Linked DNA regions of Homo sapiens: region 2 is linked to region 1. Evidence: fine-mapped expression QTL. A gene starts in region 1. The other region holds a variant in brackets. All regions are shown on one strand. Distances are from middle to middle.

Region 1 (8,329 bases):
CCTGGGAGACAGAATCTGCCCTGATTTCTCACCGTCTTCCCCCAGCCAAATCCTTAATTATCTTTTCCCAAGGTCTTGCCTTCATCCAGCATTTCCCACCCACCCCCCAGCAAAATTGCTGCCACTGCCCCTCGTGGTTAGAGCCTCGACTGCCAAACATTCCGTCCCCATCCACCAGCACCTTCCTCCTCCCAGCTTACCAGAACTTGAAGATGATGCCAGTGGCCACGAGAACAATGATGATGGAGATGGTAATTGTGACATAGAGCTGGGGGTCCACACCTGATTGGGGTGGGAAGAAAGTTTTAGGGAGCCCCGAGGTGGTAGGAGCCAAGAGGGGCTGGGGGCTGGGCTGTGGGCTCTGTCGGCTGGAGTGGCATTGCTGTGTGGATCCACACTGCCGGCTCTGTCTGCCCCTCTGGAGCCTCACTCTTTATTATCACCAGCATTCCCCTGAGTTTTCAGCTCTTTTCCTCCACTTTCCCAAATGTATTTCACCAAATCTTATGTGTATATGTGATGAGGATGAGGCCCCATGATCAGCGAGAACCTATCACTATGCCTGGAAACTAAGGGGTGGAGATGTCCTAGTCTCTGCCATGGCCCAACTCCCAAACCACAGGCCCTGTTCCTCCATCAGCACTCCCTGAGCCAAGACATCTCCCGGGTAGTGCCCTTCATTCATGGCATTCTCTGCCCAGAATACTCCCACTCTCTTTTCAAGGGCCAGCTCAAATGTCAGTTCTCTGAAGGTGTCCTGATCCCCAAGCAGGAGGAGACTCTCACTTCTCTTTTTTTGTAAATCATGCTGCACATGCCTCTATTAAAGCATTTATTACGATGACTCCTCTCCAAGTCCTTTCATGTCTGTCTGCTCCAGTGGACCTGAACTCCGAGAGGGTGTCTTTATCTCTGCATCCTGTGCCAGTATAGTGCCTGACACATTTGTTGAAGGAGCTAACAGACAAGGCCTCTATTTCTGCCCCTTGGTGTCTTCACCCAGCCTCCCCATCCGTCATATCCCTCCCAGCCTTTCCCACTCACCTTCCCCACGGCCCCCGAACAGGAATGGCCGCAGGGTGGCAGGTGCCTCTCCAAGGATAAGCCCATCTCCATCACCTCGCATGGAGTCTGAGTTGGGGTGTGGGGTTGCGAGCCCATGAGGGGCTGCAAAACCATAGTCCAGAAATCCGGGATTGGCAGAGTTGGGGTCCCCTCCATCCTCTCGAGACACGGTGGGACCCCACACGATAGCCCAGGGGTATTGGGATGAGGGCGGCCCCTCCTCAAAGCCTGATGGGGTGGCTGGGGGTGCAGTGCCAGGCAGGACTTGCCGACGTGATCTTGGGACCCGAGGAGATCGGCTTGGTGGAGGTGCTCGCTCCCACACGCACACATGACGTGGGGCCGAGGGGCCTCCCCTGGCACACGGGGGGCGGGCTGGGGCTGGTGGGGTTCGAGGGGAGGATGAAGAGCCCTGAGCAGGCGGTGGGAGGGGCAGCAACAGCAGTGGCCAGAGAGGGAGGAGGTGGGACAGCAGCAGCGCAGGCCTGCAAGAAGGGAGAGAGCGTGGCTGAGACACAGGCCTACTGTGGGCCTATGTGAGGGAGGGACAGGTTCACACCAGAAACCTCCAGGTTTCCCTGTGAAAGCAGGTGGGCCTTGGGAAGACTCGCCTCATTTCCCATCTTCCAAAGGAGGATGGCCCTCAGGATGGGAAGGCTCTGGATGGGTCTAGGAAGGAAGGAGTCATGGCCCCAGGGAATGTGGTCTCCAGGCTCCCTCTGCTGGGCCAAACTTACCACATCCTGGACTCCATGTCTGAGGTCTTCCTCAGCTGTGACCCAGATTTTCAGCCTTTACTGGGAGAAAAAGGGGGCCGTCACACCCCAGCCCTGCCCTGTGTACTTCCCCAGCTAATTCATCCACCAATTCTACCCGCATCTGCCCTCCCAGGCCACCCAGCTGCCAGCTATGCGGCTGCACCCAGGATTCACTGGTTGTTAGCATCCTTTTGGGGGAAAAACTCCAGCGTGGTTGCCTGACCAGACTCCAGCCCCATCTACAACTTCTCAGGTCCCTGTTACCTCTCCACCCCAGGGTCTACTCTGGCTTCTCTGATTTCCCTTCTTCTCACTTCCTCTGCCCACAGCTCCAGGCTTTTCTTGGATCTTAATTTAGAGCCAAGAACCTTGTGATTCCTTGAGCACCTACCGCTAGGGAGGGAGTCTGAGGGTAGGGGGAGGGATGGGGAAGTCAATCTGAGCAAGCCAGTGAGTGTGTGTACGTGCAGGGGGGCCCTTCCAGCCCTCCCAGCCCTCCCACCCCTCTGGCAGTGCCAGGCATTTGTCTTATGATTAGCCCCAGGAGTCTGCATCTTCAGGAGAAAGGAATGAAGAGCTGGAGGGATGGAAGGAAAGAGACAGAAAGAGAGAGGTGAGTGGGAGAAAAACTACAGAATATAATTTTTGCTCTTAATGTTTAATCATCCAAGTGCATAGGTGCCCTCTGAAGGGAGGTGGAGTCAGGAAGAAACCACCCCCTCAAATGTGGCTCTCCTGGGTAAAGAATCCTGGGAAAATCGGGATGGTTGGTTTTGAAAGAGAAAGGGTGTGTTCTCAGAGCTGAGGGTGGTGGATCCAGGAGGGGCAGGCTCCCCAGAGGGAGTGAAGATAGGATACCCGTTTCCTGTGGATTCTGGGTCTAAATCTGCCCAATGGGCCAGACGCAGTGGCTCACGCCTGTAATCCTAGCACTTTGGGAAGCCAAGGCGGGTGGATCACCTGAGATCAGGAGTTCGAGACTAGCTTGGCCAACATAGTGAAACCCCGTGTCTACTAAAAATACAAAAATTAGCCGGGGGTAGTGGTGGGCGCCTGCAATCCCAGCTATTCAGAGGGCTGAGGCAGAAGAATCCCTTGAACCTGGGAGGCGGAGGTTGCAGTGAGCTGAGATCACACCATTGCACTCCAGTCTGGGCAACAAGAGCGAGACTCCGACTCAAAAAATAAAATAAATAAATCTGCCCATTGAATCTTCCCAGAGAACAACAAGGGAACAAGATGGGAAAGTCACGGGAAGGGCGTGGGGAAGCAGGCAGTGGGAGAGATGGGAAGGGGTGAAGGGCTGGGAGATGGAAGGCTGGTTAAGAGTGAGAGAGGAGAAATGTGAAGAGGAAGCTGGCCTGGAGTGCAGGGTGAGAGAGAGCAGGCAGTCCTGAAAAAGAGAGAACTGGGAAGAGAGGAGGAGAGTGGGTACAGAAGACTCGAACTGTGGAGGATGCCGAAGGGAGGAAAGGATGAGAGAAAAGGTCAGGGAGGGGAAACGGAGAGGATGAAGGGGTCACAGGTGCAGGGGAAGAAGGGGCAGGAGGAGAAGGAGAGAGCGGTCCAGGCAGGACAGCCAGAGGAGTGGAGAGTAAGGGGATGGGAGAAAAGGGGGGAAAGCCCAGGATGGGGAGAAAGGAAGTGGGGAAGGAGAGAACATAAATGCTTAAGGAAAAATGACACGAGGAACGGGCTGGGAAGCAGAGGCGGGAGCAGCAAAGATGGAGGAGTTCGGAATTGCTCCCCCAAATGTAAAGGGATGTGGAGATACCGAAAGACATAGGGATGGGGGCATGGTGGGAAGAAGGGAGAGAGAGGGGAAAGGAAGAAAGCTAGAGGGAGGGAGCGAGGCGTGTAGAGCGAACCAGTGAAGCGGAGAAGGGCTCCCAGGGCGCATCTGTGGCCAGCTGACTCTAGGACTATCGCCCCTCCGCCTGTGCATCCCCACCCCCAGCCAGCGCCAACCCAGTCCCTGGGCCCCGCACAGCTTCAGCCGCCCCCTCCAGGAAGCCCGCAGTCCCCGGGCTGGCGCGCCACCCCCACCCCTCTCCCAGCTTCTCACCGACCTGTTGTGCGCAGGAGACGAGCTGGGGGTGGGGCAGGAGCCTCGGGGTGCGGGAGCCGGGCCCCAGCCCCAGCGTGGCCCCCATCCCACCCATCCCGCAGGCCCGCACTCCCCGCACAGGGCTGGAGAGCGGCGAGAGTGGGGGGAGACGAGGAAAAGGAGGTCGGCGAAGGGACCCCGAGGCAGGGAGTGCCGAGAGCGGACTGGGGACCCGAAGCAGGAGACTGCGCGGAGCCGCCCGCCGAGCCGAGGCGGGATGGAGGCAGCCGCGGGGACGGGGACGGCTGCGCCAGGGAGGGCGGGAGCGAGCCAGGACCGCGGAGGGATGGAGAGCCCTTCGGGGAAGGGGCGCTGGGAGGCTGGAGGCCTTGTCCCGGGCGAGGGACCGCGTCGGGAGGGGCAGGAGGCGCAGGGCGCGGAGCCGGGAAGGGCAGGGCCGGGCTCCCCGCGGGTGGGGGCGTGGGGGTCCCTCTCACTCACCTGCATGCTTGGCGCGGCGGCGCGACGACTGCGGGCGCTCGGGACTGAGCGGGGCTGGGGGGTCGCAGGAGCGGGCGGGGTGCGGGGCATGGTGGGGAGGTTTGGCCCGCGGCAGGGCGCTGGAGCGGGTGGGGGGCGGGCGCCTGGGGCGCGGGGCGGCGGCGGTGGGAGATGCTCGCCTCGGCTCGGCTCGGCTCGGCTCGGCTGGGCTCGGCGCGGCGGCTGGGACCGCTCCGTCTCCGTCTCCGCCTCCCCCCCGCGCCGGAGGCCACGCACGGTTTAACCCTCCTGCTGCCGCGCTGCAGGAGTCAAGCCAGGCTATGTCCCAGGTGGAGGGCTGAAGAGGCTGGCAGGGTCCAGCGACCGTCCGCTTCCCTGGGTTCTGATGGCAGTCTCCCCACCTCCTTCACCCCAACTCCAGGGACACCCATGGTCGCCTCAGTCAGTTTCTGAGATTCTGAGTCACTCAATGCTCTGCATTCCCAACTTTGTTCTTTTGTATTGTGTTTTGTAGAGATGAGGTCTCGCTGTGTTGCCCAGCCCGGTCTCGAACGCCTGGGCTCAAGCGATCCTTCCCGCTCAGCTTCCCGGAGTGCTGGGATTACAGGCGTGAGTCACCACTGCCTGTCCCCCAACTTGGTTTTGCCCGCTGTAGAAAGTGCCTGAGGTCAAGGCTGGGGGCAAGGGGTGGAGGAAAGGACTGGGGAGGAAGGACCTTGCACCATCTTTGGATTATCCCCACAGCTTGATCCCCTATTTCACTCTGGCCCTGCTACCATGCATTAAGTGGATCACGTCGAAATTCCTGGGCTTTTCCAGCACTGGAATACCTAGACTCCGTGCTGTGACTTACAAGACCCTATATAACCTGGCTCTTAGGTGGCTCTCTGATTGCCTTTCCTAAAGATTTCTATGCTTCAGCCACATGGGACCTGGTGGATTTCCTGGTTGGAGACAGGTTTAACCTGCCTCAGGGCCTTTGCACTTGCTGTTCCCTCAGTAATACATTTCCCTGGCTTTTCACAATGACTTACTGTTTTCATTCCAGTCTCACTTAGATCCAACGCCTTCTGGGAGGCCTTCCCTAATGTCTCTATCAAAAGTAGCCTCTCCTGCCCCTTCTCCCACCACCTGGATCCCATCCCTCTCTACCACACTACGCTGTTTTTCCTCAGGGCACTTCCAGGACACCACACTCTCCTCATTTCCCTCCAACCTCACTGACTGTTCTTAGTCTTCCTCGGGTGACCTCTAAATGTTGGAGCCTCCTAGGGCTTAGTCCTTGGCCATTCTCTCTTTCCACATTCTCTGTCCAGTGATCTCATCCGGTCCCAGGGCTTAAATACTATGTAAATGTCAGTGAGTCCTAAATTTATATCCAGAGCGCCAGACTCATTTATCCGACAGCCTACTTGACATCTCCACTTGGATGTCTAATAGCCATGCAAAGCTAACTTGACTAAAATAGATGTCTTGAATTCCCCCACCCCCAATCCATTTTTCTCCCAGTGATCCCCATCCTGAGGCTTCACAACTACTAGTTGTTCAGGCTAAAAATCTAGGAAACATCCCTCCCTTCCCCTTTTTTTCACTGATTCTCTCCCTGTATCTAATTCACCAACAAGTCCTGTGGGCTCTGCGTCCAAAATATATCCCGAATTCATCTCCTTCTATCTTTATTGCTATAGTCTTGGTCTAAGCCATCATGTCTCATCCAGATTATCATAATAGCTTCCTCACTGGTCCCTGCTTCTGCCCTTGTCTTTACAAACTAGTTTTTCCTATATTGATAATATTTTAAAAATCAAAAGCATGTCATGCTCTTCTCTGCTTAAAATATTCGAGTGGTTTTTCATTACACTTGGAATAAATCTGAACTCCTTGTAAGGAGAAGCCCACCAGCCTGTACCCACCTCATACACAGTGCTCCTGCTGGATCAGACTACTTGCTGTTCTGTAACATCAGAAGTCATTCTCTTAGCATCCCTGCACTTTTTTTTTTTCTCGAGACAGTGTGTCTCTCTGTTGCCCAGGCTGGAGTGCAATGGCACGATCTCAGTTTACTGCAACCTCCGCCTCCCAGGGTCAAGCAATTCTCCTGCCTCAGCTTCCCAAGTAGCTAGCGTGTGCATGCAGGGGGGCCCTTCCAGCCTTCCCAGCCCTCCCACCCCTCTGGCAGTGCCCACTAGTGCCCTGCTAATTTTTGTATTTTTTGTAGAGACAGGGTTTCACCATGTTGGCCAGGCTAGTCTTGAACTCCTGACCTCAAATGATCCACCAGCCTTGGCCTCACGAAGTTCTGAGATTACAGGCGTGAGCCACTGCGCCCGGCCCCTCCACTTTTGATTCCCTCTTCCTGGAATGTTTTGCCACCCCTCTCCCCATCTTCACCTGGTTGGCTCCTTCATCCCTGCTCAAAATCTAAAGTGGCCCCCACTCTGTTTCCTCATTATGTTTCATTGTCTTTCCAACTCATCACTTTCTATTTGTTTATTTATTTATTGAGATGGAGTTTTGCTCTCGCAGCCCAGGCTGGAGTGCGATGGTGCAATCTTGGCTCACCGCAACCTCTGCCTCCTGGGTTCAAGCGATTCTCCTGCCTCAGCCTCCCAAATAGCTGGGATTACAGGTGCACACCACCATGCCTGGCTAATTTTTGTAATTTTAGTGGAGACGGGGTTTCACCATGTTGGCCAGGCTGGTCTCGAACTCCTGACCTCAGGTGATCCTCCCACCTCGGCCTCCCAAAGTGCTGGGATTACAGGCGTGAGCCGCCACGCCTGGCCCGACTCATCACTTTCTGAAATGATCATATATGTGTTTACTATTTACTGTCTGCTCTCTCCTGCCCCCCTATACATTAGAGAGCCAAGATCTTATTTGTCTTGTTTACCGTGTATCCCTACTCCTACTGCAGTGCCTTGGAATGTAGTAGATGCTCAACATGTACCACTTAATGAACTTCTTCTGGGACCCCTGCCCACTCTGAACTCTTTTAATTCTCTCCTCTGCTGTCCTCCAGCCATTCCTCTCTAGCTGCCTGCCCCCTACTGATCTCTGCCCTACGCCAAATGCTTCAGGTTGAGCCCTTGCTCATGTCCACACCCCTTCAGATCCTCCTCCTTCATTTGCTGCATTGTGACCCGTTGTCAGCCTGGCGCTCCTGCCTCGTGAAAGGAAGGAAGCCTGCTGTTCTGACGAGCATCTGCAGCAGCTGCCCTCTTGCTTGCGTGTCCCTGACAGCCCTTCATTTGAGGTCAGAACAGCAGCGAGTGAGCCGTCCTCCTAGTGTCTCCCAGTGGTGGGGGAAAGACAAGGCACACTGGATGTGAACCCGGCCAAGGGGCCATGTGAGTCAGGTGCGCAACTCCTGCCACCTCCTGGGCCCCTTAAGCCCCAGAGCATCCTGAGGATATGCTCCAGGTGAACTCATGTCACTGGCATGGACCAAGTTTATCAAGTGAATATTCATGTTCAGTGTAAGTGCCTTTGACACTGAGGACCTTGGGTCATTAATTATTTCTATTATTCTTGATTCATTCATTCTTTCCACATTTTTTTTTTTTTTGAAACAGGGTCTCACTCTGTTGCCCAGGCTGGAGTGTAGTGGCACAATCATGGCTCACTGCAGCCTTGACCTCCTGGCTCAAGCAATCCTCCCACCTCAGCCCCCAAGTATCTGGGACTACATGTGTGTGCCACCATGCCAGGCTAATTTGTGGTGGTGGTTGTTTTTTTTTGTTTTTTGTTTTTGTTTTTTTTTTTTGGCAGAGATGAGATTTTGCCACGTTGTCCAGGCTGGTCATACAAATATGGTCATTTAAATGGTGTGACACGCCAGGTACCGTGCCATGGCTGGGGATACAGCGGAGAGCAAGAATGAAGTCATCACTGTCTTGGTGGAGCTTACAGTCTGGTAGGGAGACAGTGCAGTGATAAATGTGACTTCAGATGAATT
Region 2 (8,329 bases), 900 kb before region 1:
ATTTAGACCTACAGCCATCATCACAGTATTTGCACAGCTCTTCATCTGAATCCTCCCAGTAATACTGTGGGCAGGTAGCACAGGTGCTATCACCCCTATTTCATAGCTGAGAAAACTGAGGCTCAAGAGAGAATGACTTGCCCAAATATTACATCAACTGGAAACAAATCTGGAGGTAAAACTGAGTTCTTTTCACTCTTAACTCACTGCTCCTGGTCTAAAGGAATGTCCCCGGGCAGGTGCGTCAGGGTCTGATGAACACATACACAGGCACATTACCCATCTTTTGACTGTCAGCCTCACTCCTTCTCCATTTTGTTCTGAGAATAGGGAACTCTTCCTTGTTTAAGTCCGACTTTATAAAGACGCCTCTCCAAATCCTTGATCACATTACTTTTCCTTCTGTGAAACAGTTCCAGCCTGGTTATGTTTTCTTTAGGTGTGATGACCTAAGTCAGCCACATGTGAGGTTTTACCATGATTCAGTAAATCACTGAGTGATGCAATCCTAGCTTGGTTTTAAAATGTATTCTGAGAATTCGAGGGGTCTGTGGTGCTGCATCACATCACACTGATGTTTCTAGAAAGAGTTACAATCATCCCCAAAGATCTCTGCCTGATGCATAGCTGATACCTCTGAGCCCATCACAAATGGCTAGTCGAAGGCCAATTTTCCCTCGTGATCTTTTCCATATGTTGTTTTCCTACAGCCTCACAGCTACTTTCTATAAATTTTCTCCATCAGCCTGTCCCTTTATTTCCCAGAAAACCCAGTGGTCATCTGCAAGCATGGAGATTCCACTTTGAACTCAAGCTCCTTGAGAGTGGGGTCATGCTTACATCATCTCCGTATCCCCAGGACCAGTGTCTGGATAATGCAAAATATGTGGTGGCTTAACTGCTTCAGTGAGGTGTATGTAAGGCTCCTCCTCTTCCAAGTTACCCCACCAGTGAGTCCCAAGAAGGACAATCACGATGATAAGGCTGTGTGGGGAACACACGTTGATATGGAAACGCAGAAAGTCCTAGGAGTATTTGGGGTGTGGGAAAGAAAGCTTAGGTATATGAGCACTGTTGTTGACACAATTGTTGTTTTCAAATATTTAAAGGGTTGACCTATACAACAGGGTATACTTGTTCTGTGCAGCTCCAGGAAGCAGAACTAAGACCAAAATAAGGGAAATCAGCAGTTTTCCTTCTAGTTTCATGACTTCCTATGGGCTAGATATGCCCAAGACAGAAACAAACTGTCCCAGAGATAAGGTGCTCCCTATTCCAAGAAAAATCAAGCAGAGGCTGGGCATTTGCTAGATGAATATGCCGCAAGAAAAATTCTTCATTCCTTCCTTCCAGGGACAGCTATCCAACTGTCTGGCCTCTAAGCTTCATTTGCCTCTGTGAGGCTATGGTTTGTTCCTAGAGGTTCTGGATAATTGAAAGCTTATTGTACAACAGGGCCAAGACAGCACAAACATATAGCTTGTCATATTTTTCAGACTAATATCAGCTTTTCCTCCCTGGGGCATGACATAAGCTGATCAAGGAGGCAATGAGCTGATGCCAGACAGCTCCTTCCTTCCCCAGCTCTGCCCTGGAATTCCAGGTGGCCATGGGGAACTTGTGGAGCCTCTTGGTGCCTTGGGATCCACCATCCATACCATGTGGCTGATAAGACAGGAAGGAGGATGAAAAGTTTAAAACAGGAGCCACCATCTCTGGAAGGCTGTTGTGAGGCTAGGAGGCCACCCTCAGAAGACCAACACAGTCATTAGCTGCTACCTTGAACTGGAGCTGGTAGCATTTTGAACTGGAGCTGGTAGCATTGTACTCCAACTCCTGTTTCCATTGGTCAACCACAAGACCAACAGCCTTCCCTCCGAAAGGGTACAACTGGAGGAGAGTGGCACTCCATGGAGGAAATGAGAGAAAGGAGACTGGGGCAGAGCCTTTCCACAGCATGATGGGATTAACAGCATGACTTATATCCTGATCTATAAAATGGACCAGAATGTAATGGCATGGAACATAATCATCCTTGTTTCTGCCTCACCTCAACCAGCTGTTGCTGCTTTTCTCTGTCTACCCTTCTCTCACACCCTCAGAGGTAAAGGAAGAATAGACTTCAGGCCTATGAGGTATTATTTCCTTCCAGGCTGCAAAATGTTTTCCAGCTAAACCCAACCATCAAATGATAAGACCCGTGCAAATGCCATGGTGCTGATCCCACGTGTCATCTCTCCTTAGCTTCCCTTCATGCATCCAGCCTCATTTCCTTCCAACCCTGGATTGCCTGCTAATTCGTGGGGCAGAGCAAGGGACTTGGGCCAGGTTGGCAGGGAATCCTTACAGACAAGGTCTGCAAGCCAAGTTCTTGATCTCACCACTCCCAGTCAACAGTGAGGAAAGATCTGGCTTTGAGTCAATGTGATTTTCAGTCATTAGTATCAGGCTAAACTATAAATCCTTATACAGGGCAGTCCAGGCTGGTTACAAAGACACACTCTTTCACCTCAGTCGTCCTTCAGAAAGCAACATTTCTGATTCAAGGGCCACCTCTTCCAGGAAGTCTTGTCTTATTCCTCTAGCAGCAATTACTCTTCAAATGTGATCCCATACTGATAGGTTTGAACATTATTATAGTCCTGAGAGCCCTCGCTATATCCGGTCTTGCACACATTTGTCTCCCTACATAACTCCTAGATCTTAAAGGCCATAAGCTCTCCCTTCATCGTTGTTGTGCCTCCCCATACTGCCAAGCAAAGAGACTTGCTCACTGTAAGCATCAGTGAATGTGTATTGTGTCGAGCTGAATTGCCTTTCTCAATCCCAAAGAAAAATCAAGGAGAAAGCAGCAGGGCTAAGGAAATAAGTAATCACAGATTGATCAACGTTTTTCTCTCTCCAGTTCCTCCTCTAACCCAGCTGTGGCCTGGCCAGTCCTTCCCCAGCCTGGCCTGCTGAGAAGCCTCCTAAGAACATGGCTTCCTCGGTCTCCCTCCGGGGGTGCTCAGATGGCTCACAGTTCAGGAGGGTGGAAGCAGAGCCCAGAGACAAGGAGGGATGGATCAAACCACACAGTCTCTGGTGGCAGTGCTGGGGAACCCTGGCAAGGACGGTGACCTGTGCCTTGCAGTAGGAGGGAGATCCCATTCGTGGCATGTCAGGCTAGAGAGGGCTGGTAGAGATGTGTAGCAACGTTGGGGCACAGTGCCACCCAAGGGCTCTTGAAATGGTAACCCCATAGAGATCACTCTCAGATCCTCGTGGAAGCTGTTCCATATCTCAAGGCTCTAAGCTGGCACATTTCTAAGAGAACTCCAGAGCTTCCACATGGGTGGGCTTCATGCCCAGGGCCTGACTTTAAGTGCAGGAAGCCTCACTCATGAAGTGAGCACCCCAGGAACAGGTGGGAGTGAGTAGGGACCATTACCCCTCTTCAGACTGCAGGCCTGGTTTGGTACAGTGAAGCTCCCCATCCATTATCCCCTTGGTGAACTCCCACAAGTCAACAGGCTGCAATCCCTCTGAGCTGAGTACAGTTCTAGAACCCTCTCTTTCCCATGCTGTCACAGGCAGGCAGTGGCAGCTGCTTTAGAATAAACTTTTTGTACATTAGTTTCAGCAGAGTATAGTCAGAAGAGAAATCAAACTCAGAAGATGCTTAAGACCTATTGTTTTGTCTCATTCATATCAAAACGTCCAAGCTAAGAAAATCAGCCTGGGAGCAGATATTAACTTTAGTAAAAAGACAGATTACGGCCCTGACTAGTATTGGGTCAGACCTGTACAAATCGAAAAGGCCTCCAGTCCCCAAGTTTTCCCAGAAAATAAGGGCTGTTTTCCTCCTGGGTTTTAGAGCATTGAACCAGAGAAGTGCAGGCAGAAATGTCCTTCTCCAGCTGTGAGGACCCTCTTCCAGCTCCCTAAAGGACTAGAAGAGTCATTTCACTCTAGCTTAGGAGTCATTCCTCATATTATCAGCCACAAGCCATGTTTCTGACAAGGCACAAGTGCTGCTGGCTGGAAGTGCCCAGGAGGTCTTCTGGATTGGGGTGCACTCACTCATCGAGGTTCCTGCTGGATACCTCTCTAGGGAACTTTCCAGAGAGCTCTCACACACACACTCACACACACACAGTCACACAATCGCTCATTCATACACACTCATGCACACACTCTCTCACATACACTCACACTCTCACACTGACACACATGAACACACTCATACCCACTCACACACATACACTCACACCGACACACGCATGCACACACACTCATTCACACGCTCATACACATACACTCCCTGCTCACACTCACACACTCATGCACGCTCACACTCTCACACACACCCTCACATATACACTCTCCCAAACACACATATTCTCTGGCACACACACACACTCTCATACTCTTACACTCACACACATGCACTCACACACACACCCACTCTTGCACATACACACACACAAACTCACAACACACAGAGACACACTCTCACACGAACACATTCTCACACTCACACACACTAACACACACAAACACTCTCATACAGGCTCACACACACACTCAGGCCTGCAGGCCCCAGGTCTCCAGAGCAGAGGCAGGATCGGGAGGAGAGCCGTGCGGGGCTGGAGGCCATCAGCAGTCTCACAGTGCAGCCTGCTGGGCACGAACGACACTGCAGCCGGGTGGAG[G/A]CAGGGGCCAGGGGTGCAGGGAAGGGTGTCTTGCCTCCCCTCTGTGGACTTTCAACATCCAGGAACGGTGTCTCAAACCCCAAGACTCAAAATGAGGCCTGAAGGCCTGCGGAAGGGGAAGGAGAGCTAGTTCCGGGGCCTTCCACATACAAACAGGTCTCCTGCCCCATGAGCTCTCAATGGCTCACACAGAGGTTTTAGAATCTTCCAAACAATTGGCACAGAGGAGGAGCACTAGGGCTCCAGAGGAGGAACAGAAGCTTGGCGCTAAAAATGAGGAGCTGAAAACCCAAAGAAACGGGTGGGAAAGACCTTGGCCAGGCCTGTGCATGAATTATCACGTTCCGCCTGTGCCAGATTCCCCTGCTCCGTCACTCTTCCAGCACAGACCATATGAGGGCAACTTCTCCGCGAGGCACACGGAGGGTGCCATGCATGGTAGTAAGTAGTCATGGAGCAAAACTGTCATGGTGTGGGGCCTGTGATGGCTCAGGAAGGGAACCACAGGCTGGACTCTGCAGGCAGGTGGGCCCCGACAGGAGGTGGGAGGAATGATGGAGAGGAAGTGGCAAAAGAGAGAAATGGTGCTGAAGAAGAATCCCCAAGACTCACAGTTAGATTGGGGAGTGGGAAGTGAAAGTGACGCCAGTCAGGGATTACTGAGGTCTCGGGTTGTGTCATGATGAAGAAGAGGAAGGAGAGGACTTGGACAGAATCAGGGAAAGCAAGTTGGGACCATTTGGTAAAAGAGTGTAAAATGAGGAGTTTGGTGTGCTCACTGAGTCTAAGTAGCTGCTCCCTGCATGCTCCAGCCCACATTTCTCTCTACAAGTTCTCCAGGTACTCGCCCACTTCTGACCCTAGTGCTCCCCACCACCAGCCCTTCCATCACTTCTCTTTCCAGCAGTTTCTTGAGGTCAGAGAGTTCCTTATGCCACTGGGATGACAACCACCATCACCATCTGCCTTGGCTCCCCACACACATGCTGCCCAGCGTCCCATTCTCCTGAGGCTCCTTCCTCCTCTCCCTCCTGACCAAGACTTGGCTTTGCCCAGGGACCGTGGGAGTGTTCCAGGCCATCTGATCTGTGAGGAGCTGTAGACAGCCTCCGGCCCTGCTCCAGTACACCGTGCCCTGTCTAGACAGATTTGAGCTCTCCATCCTCAGGAACCGCCAGGCCCCAGAGCAGGGCTCCGCTCCAAAGGCAATACTTCCCCTGCAGGTGAGGCTGCTTTGGTGGCCAAAACCGAGTGCATATTGGAGCCATTTGCCACTTAGCTGGCAGCGAGTCACCTGAAGTCTCTGCGGGAAAAGATAGGGCTCTCTGGTAGGGAGAATTTTTATTTTTTAATCGTACTTAAAAAAAACAAAAACAAATGAGTAGTTGGAGAAAACAGGCGACAGAGTGGGTGGCCACTTGAGATCCAGAGAGAAAGATCAAAGCCCACCAAGAATGGAATGATCAGCCTTGGGGTGGCCCAGAGAACAGTCTAGGTGGCCCATGCCACATGAAAGGCAGCCAGGGGACGGGAGACAGGGTGAAGGCACCTGGTCACAGGCCCCGCATGTCCCTGCTCCCCCACCCAAGACCTTGGTTCACGGTCCTCAGCTGGAACAAACACCTGCTTCCAAGAGACATCCAACCAAGCTCTGTCCGCTGGGAGGGCCGCTGCATCTCTGTGTAGGAGGTGAGCTGCCCAAACTCTGGCCTCCACGCGGCTTTCTCTTTCCAAGCAGAAGCTGGAATTCCTCCCTCTAGACTCGATTCTCCTGGCCGCTGCCCCTCTCACAATCCCAGCCCAGGGCAACCAGCCAGGAACACGCTCTATTCTCAGGCTGATGAATTAGCTCATTAGGTGACTTCAGGGCAGTGAGTCCACCATGTCCACCATGGAGCAGCCTCCTCCTGCAGGCTCCAGCGGCCCATCTTTTCCAAATGAGCACATTCTACCATGTGAACTCACAGATCCCTCAGCTCAGCCTCCCAAGTTAGGACAACCAGGACCCTGAAGATCAAAGAGGAATTGGGGCTTGCCCAAAGAAATGGTAGCACTTAGTGGCCAGGCCCAGACCAGAACTCACGTCTCCAGACTCTCAGCCCAGTGCTGTCACACAGTGCTGCCGCCCAACATTCCAGCCAGAAGATTGAGTTTCTAGAGCCCTGAAGCCATTTTAAACTAGTCAGACCTATGACATTCCAGTAAGTTATTTCCAAGGACTTTTCACTAATGTTCAACAGAAGCTGGGGAAATGTCCAAGGTGCCAGAAAACAGGACATCATTCTGTGACAACACAGAAGGGAGGAAACCCAGGGCCTAGTCTCTCCTCCCTTCTAATTTGGAAAAGCCATAAAAAGTCCACATTCTGTCAGGCCAACCAGCATATTCCTCATGTGATTTGCTAAATCCACCCTTTCCTGGATCAACACTGGCACTTGGGCATAACCCAACAATCAGCTTCATCCAGGTTCTTCTCTAGGACAAGACTAAGGAAAAGAAATGAGACAGCTCCATGCACCCCTCCCAGAGAACAGGCAGGGAAAGAGACCAATGTTGAAGACCTCAAGGTGCAGGTCATGGTCTATCAATCTACAGTATCTTTTGCCCCACGCAGCCTCCATGTCCCTCCCATGTCCCCAGCTGCTTCCCCACCCATGAGACACAGAGGAGTGGATCATAGAAGCTAGAAAAGAAGATCCCTCCACTTGAGCAAAGGACTGTCAGAGTCAAAAGGTTTATGATACATCTTTCAGGACTTGCATCTCCAGGATACTTCCAAAAGTTCCCTACCACCTCTTACCTGATGAGGTCAATAGGTTGGAACTTATAGAACACTCCATAGCGCGCCCATTCTTGATATAGCAGCTAAACAAAGAAAATAAGGAAACAGGTTAGAGGTAGAGATGGGAAACTTCACCTGATTTTGTCCATCCTAACAAGTCAGATTTTTATCCCCAAAGTCCAGCTTCTAAGAAATTCTCATGAGACATCCAGGGGGAGATGTTCAGAATCGGGAGGCTATGGAAACTGGCTTCTCCTTCCTCAAACAACAGAGATGAACTTTATCACACTCTGAGGCAGTCCTGCACCTGATTAGCAGAACCCCGTCTTCTTTATTCCCACGTCTTGCCTAGTCCAGCAAAATGAGCCCTAATGTTCATGATTCACTCATTTAACAAGTATTTATTGACATCTCCTTATGTGCCAGGCACTGTCCCCACACTGGATACAGCAGTAAGCCACAGTCTGCTTACACCCTGGTGTGGAGAGATAAACATAAACATATAAACAGATAAGATTTTGAAATCTTAATGAAGAAAAATTAATCAAGGTCAGGGAGTAGAATGTGAAGGAAGGGAGAGGAGTAGGGTGCTGTTGTAGACAGGATGGCCAGGGAAGGCCTCTCTGAGGAGGTGACATTGAGCTGAGACACAAAGGAAGGGGGGAGGGTGTCCCAGGCAGGACAGTCTTCTTGTGCAAATGCCCCAAGGCAAGTGCATATGGCACATCCTAGGAAGAACAGGGAACCAGTGTGGCTGGGGCAGAGTGAGCACGGGGAGAACGTGGGAGACAAAGTCAGAAAGAACCAGGATGGCCAGATCTCTTGGGGATTTGCAGGTCATGCTAAAATCTTT

What was found.
Region 2: its variant is fine-mapped to the expression of PIANP in ovary (GTEx, PIP above 0.99).

The regions. Positions count from the first base shown.
Region 1 is chr12:6,696,243-6,704,571 of GRCh38, forward strand. It overlaps PIANP (PILR alpha associated neural protein), which reads right to left and starts at 4,573. Exons shown (of 5, transcript NM_001244014.2): 1 at 4,372-4,573; 2 at 1,803-1,862; 3 at 1,045-1,550; 4 at 201-282. The coding sequence starts at 1,819. RefSeq lists enhancers at 540-649, 3,353-3,854.
Region 2 is chr12:5,792,013-5,800,341 of GRCh38, forward strand. It overlaps ANO2 (anoctamin 2), which reads right to left. Exons shown (of 25, transcript NM_001364791.2): 10 at 7,495-7,559. Among named protein-coding and RNA genes, the nearest start is that of ANO2, 150 kb to the right of the region's middle. The variant G/A (reference allele first, on the strand shown) is at 4,695.